Linked DNA regions of Homo sapiens: region 1 is linked to region 2. Evidence: fine-mapped expression QTL. Tissue or cell type: whole blood. Region 2 holds a variant in brackets; the other region holds the start of a gene. All regions are shown on one strand. Distances are between the middles of the regions.

Region 1 (2,744 bases), 46 kb after region 2:
ATTTTTAGTAGAGATGAGGTTTCACCACGTTGCCTAGGTTGGTCGTGAACTTCTGAGCTCAGGCAATCCGCCTGCCTTGGCCTCCCAAAGTGCTAGGATTACAGGCATGAGCCACCATGCCTGGCCAATTTTTGTTATTTTTAGTAGAGACGGGGGTTTCACCATGTTGGCCATGGTGACGAGTTTGAGCTGGTCCCAAACTCCTGGCCTCAGGAGATCTGCCCTCACCCCCAGCCTTCCAAAGTGCTGAGATTACAGGTGTGAGCCACCGCGGCTGGTCCTCTGATTTATTTTTTCAGATCCAGTACAAATGTTACCTCCTCTGCACTCCCTTTTCCAGACTCTCCTAATGCCTTGCCTCTGCCACTGAAGTACATCATTTGTTTGTCTGTTTTTTATATTTTTATTTTCTATTTTCATTTTAAATAGAGACAGGGTCTCACTATGTCACCCAGGCTGGTCTCAAACTCCTGGTCTCAAGTGATCCTCCTGCCTCGGCCTTGAAGTACATCATTTGTAAATGTGGTAGTTGATTCCATTAAAGTGAGGTGCCTGCCTTGCTGTGGTTGGCAGCCCAGGGCCTAGTGCTGGACCTGGCTTGTGGGGGTGAGGTGCTCAGTGCTACCCAATACCACAGTACAACGAATGAACAAATGTCTAAATGAAACATCCACATTGTTTTCAGTAAGTCCTCTTCCCAGCCCTGCCCTGGAGAGCCTCTCTGTGGGTGCCCTAGTGCACAGCTCTGTTGTGTGAACATCGTACACTCATGCTTGCATACGAAGGCGTGCCCTGGCTGTGGGTGGTGGGTGGCTCCTCCTTCTGGGCTACGTGAGCCCAGGGTGTGGAAGTGTGTGGAAGTGTAGGGATAAGGGTGGGGGCTTTGGGAACTGGGAAGCCCCAGGGCTAGGCCATGAATGGGTGTCAGACCCGAAGAGCAGGTTGGGGTGCAAGTTGTCCTTCAGCCCCCATTCTTCCTTCTTTCTTAACCAAGGTTACCAGCAGCCACACACATAGGTCTGGGCTCTGAAGAGGACCGGATACATAAGGCAGAACCCAAGGAAGCCTTAGGCTCAGGTCTCTGCCTGAAGGTAGGCTGGGGAGGCGGAGAGGGACAGAGGGAAGAATCCCCTGGACACCGCGCCTCAGGGAGGCCCAGGGGTAAGGTAGGAAGACTCAGGCCCGGGATGTTGTTCTGGCTCATCCACTTCCTAACTGAATCAACCTGCACAAGTCATTTCACCCTTCTGAGCATCAGTTTCTTCATCTGTAAAATGGGCCTAACAAGCAGCCCAGCCTGGGAGGTGGTTAGTGAGGTCACTGGGTGTCACTGGCGCTTGGGAACCTGCAGAGGGCAGTACTAGCGGCAGTGCCCGCGGGGATGGAGGCAGGGAGGGGGGACGATGGCGGGACGGGTGGCGCCGGGGTTCCAGCCCTGCGCCTGCTCCGGAGCACCGGGCCCCTCTCGCTGACCCCCTCGTCCCAGGACCCCGCAGGCCCGAGTGCCTGGGCTCGTCCTCTTTCGCGCCCGCTGCCAGGTGCCAGGGCCGCGCAGGCGGGCGGAGGTGGGCAGGAAGCGCCACGCCGAGGAGCCGGGGACTCTGGGAGCTAGCGGGAGACGCCGGCGTCCGCCCAGCCGACCCCTCTGGGCCGCGGCCGACGGCTCCCGGAACTGGGCAGCCGCGGGTAAAGGCCTAGCGGGCTTGATAACCCCTGCGCCCTGGCTGGGAGGCCGCGCTGAGCGGGGGGCAGGGCGGGCCGGGGGAGGAGGCTGTGCAAGGGCCGCGGGGAGATCCCGGCCGAGAACGAGAGGGACGGAGCTGGGCGCTGAATGGCGGGCGTTCTGGCAAGTCTCCCCCTGCGTTCCCGAGGCCACCCGAAAGTAGGAGAGCTGTTTGGGACCCAGTTTGGTGGAGGAGCTCTGGACCTGTAGGAACACCGCCCCTGTACGTTTCCTGCAGTGCCCCCTCCTTTTCTCATTGCCCTGGAGACCTGGGTGATCACCGGAGAACTGCCCTCGGCCCCGCAAGTCCCGTCTTGACTCAGTGGCCCTAGATCCGAGGTTAAACCGGAACCTAGGCTTTCTCAGGCTTCTGGAGCCCTCTCTTAACCCTTCCGCAGCCCCTGGGACGGGCCAGCACCCAGCCAGCTCCTCCGCTGGTTGGCCCTGCTAAGGCAGGTGGCCCAATGCAGCCAGTTCTCCTTAAGCGTACCCTGCCCAAGAAGCCCCGATCTCAGTGGAGGAGACCAGGTGCCAAATAGGGGCACATTCCATTTAAGTGAGTTCAGAGGCCTCAGAAAAGACTTCCCAGGGACGGAGACTTTTGAGCAGGATCTTAAAAGATTGGTTGGGGCCCGAGTGGTGGCTCGCGCCTGCAGTCCCCGCACTTTGGGAGGGCAAGGCGGGCGGATCACTTGAGCCCAGGAGTTCGAGACCACCCTGGGCAACAATGGTGAAAACCCCGTCTCTACAAAAACCAAAGCCAAAAATTAGCCAGGTGTGGTGGCACACCACTTTAGTCCTAGCTACTCAGGAGGCTGAAGCAGGAGGATGGCTTGAGCCCAGGAGGTAGAGGTTGCTGTGAGCTGAGATCGTACTACTGCACTCCAGCCTGGGCAACAGAGCGAGAGACCCTGTCTCAGGAAAAAAAAAAAAAAAAAAAAAAAAAAAAAAAAAATTGGTTGGGACTCTAACAGAGGAAAAAGGTCATTCCAAACTGGGAAGAGTGTATGAACAAATTTAG
Region 2 (2,500 bases):
GACGATTGGCTTTCCTTGACCGTCCCTCAAGCGCCTCTCCGGAGATGGTCTGAGGTGGGAGAAGAGCTGAAGAGACCTGGAGCCGACAGACGGTAAGCTGGGGTATGTGCTCTGCAGGGGCTGCAGGAGGCCAAGCTCTTCCCGAGCCACCTCGGCGAGTATTCTTGCCGCTTGGCCACGCTGGTCTGCCCTGGTCCGGTCCCCTCACCCCGACTGGAACCTCCCTGCTTTCTAGTCTAGGGGCTTCGCTGCGGCTGAGACTCGGTCGCCGCCACGCCTTAGCGTGAAGGATTCCGGGAAGCCTGCGGGACTGCGAGTGGAGAGGTTTTGCCCAACGGGACGGTCTCCTTCCTTCTGTCCAAATTCTACCTGTCCTTCGAGGCGTGGTGCGGGCCCCACTGCTTAGGGGAGACTTCCTTTTCGCCTGACCGCGGAGGTGTCTCTCTGTCCTGGTCTCCCTCATCGGGTACTTTGTTTCGGTCGTTGTCTTCACGTATCAGTCTTATCTTTTTGGCCAAATTATGAGTTCTTAGGCGTTTAGGACCCTTTTTTTCTTGAATACCACAGTTCATTCATTGTCTTGCGTTACAGTATATGCCCTCTTAAGTGTTAAGAGGGTAGAGTGAAGATCATGCCCCTATCTCCTCAGAGTAGAAACAAGAGACACAGAAAGAGAAATTAAAGAAGACAGGAGGACAGTCAGAGAGCGTCAGGGAGTTTTGCCTAGGTTTCAGATCATTCTGTATCGCCAGCTAGCTTGCCTCCTTGGACTTACCCACCAGTCTAACAGCAGGTGTATGTTTAGAATATTTGTGCTCGGCACAGTGTAGGGACACGGGCAGGTGTGATATGGTTTCTGCTCAGAAGCTTCTTATAGTCCAATTGGGTAAACGAGACTAGAACACATAAAACGACCATGGCAACATGAAAATAGGGTTGAAGTTTTATGGTGTCAGCTGTGCCAGCCATAGAACTAAGGAGCAAGAGTAGATTCAGGGATGGGGTAGTTTAGGAAGGCTTCCCGGAATGTGATTATCTCCTGATATTTATTGAGTACCTGGGGTGTGCAAAGCTCTGTGCTGAATCTGAGAATGAGAAGTGAATAAGTGATGGCCACTGTCCTGAGAAACTCCTAGTCTAGGGGAAACAAGTTTCATTGCATTGATAGCAAAGATGTGTGTGGATGCCGTGGGCAAGAGATGGGATATGCCAGCTGTACCTGGATGAATTGGGAAGGGGGTCATCAAAGAGAAGACTTTGGGGTTTGAAAGGCGAATAGAAGTTGCATAGGTAGGCCTGTCGCGGTGGCTCACACCTGTAATCCCAGCACTTTGTGAGGCCGAGGCGGGCGGATCACTTGAGGTCAGGAGTTTGGGACCAGCCTGACCAACATGGCAAGACCTCGTCTCTACTAATACTACAAAAATTAGCTGGGCGTGGTGGTGCGTGCTTATAGTCCCAGCTATAATACTTCGGAGGCTAAGTCACGAGAATCGCTTGAACCTGGGAGGCGGAGGTTGCAGTGAGCCCAGATCACAGCACT[G/A]CACTCCAGCCTGGGCGACAGAGCAAGACTCCATCTCCAAAAAAAAAAAAAAAAAAAAAAAGAACTTGCGTAGGCAGAGAGTTTTAGGAGAATGTAGAGTATTCAGAGACAAAGATGATTGAATCAGAGGAAGAGGGAATGAAGTATGGGTGAGGAAGCCAGAGAACAGCATCATGTGGGAGAAAGAGCATGATCTTTGGATTGGAATGAGGGTGCTCTTACATCAGATGAAGTGTAGAGAGGACTCACCACAGGGCTGACACACTGTAGCTTCTCAATAGATGTTCGTTTCCCTACCTAGAACTGGAGAAGTAAAATTGAGACCACTTTGAGAAGAGCCTTGCATTTCATACTGTAATAGTCAGAGGAGGTGTGGGATTTTATGACTTTTGAAGCTTTTTTCTACTTTTCTTACCACAACATTATAAAAGCAGTCAATATTCAATATTTCTTTCTTCTTTTTTTTTTTTTTGACAGGGTCTGGGTCTGCCGCCCAGGATGGAGTACAATGGTGTGATCTTGGCTCTTTGCAACCTCTGCCTCCTGGGCTCAAGCCTTCCTCCCACCTGAACCTCCCAAGTAGCGGGACTGCAGGTGCATGCTACCACATCGGCTGTTTTTTTTTTTTTTTTTTTTTTTTTGAGATTGAATCTTGCTCTGTCACTAGGCTGGAGTGCAATGGTGCGATCTCGGCTCACTGCAACCTCTGTCTCCCGGGTTCAAGTGATTCCCCTGCCTCAGCCTCCATAGTAGCTGGGACTACAGGCGTGTGCCACCATACCTAGCTAATTTTTTGTATTTGGCCAGGATGGTCTCAATCTCCTGACCTTGTGATCCCCTCGCCTCGGCCTCCCAAAGTGCTGGGATTACAGGCATAAGCCACTGCGCCCGGCTGATTTTTGTATTTTTAGTAGAGACGGAATTTTGCCATGTTGCCCAGGCTGGTCACAAACTCCT

Evidence for each region. PIP is the estimated chance that this variant, and not a neighbour inherited with it, causes the effect.
Region 1: it holds the start of NLRX1, and the variant in region 2 is fine-mapped to the expression of NLRX1 in whole blood (TOPMed, PIP 0.98).

What each region holds. Positions count from the first base shown.
Region 1 is chr11:119,167,357-119,170,100 of GRCh38, forward strand. NLRX1 (NLR family member X1) reads left to right here and starts at 1,369. Exons shown (of 10, transcript NM_001282144.2): 1 at 1,369-1,946. RefSeq lists a silencer at 1,278-1,887 and enhancers at 1,459-2,164, 2,165-2,744.
Region 2 is chr11:119,121,548-119,124,047 of GRCh38, forward strand. HINFP (histone H4 transcription factor) reads left to right here and starts at 33. Exons shown (of 10, transcript NM_198971.3): 1 at 33-92. RefSeq lists a silencer at 1-46. The variant G/A (reference allele first, on the strand shown) is at 1,544.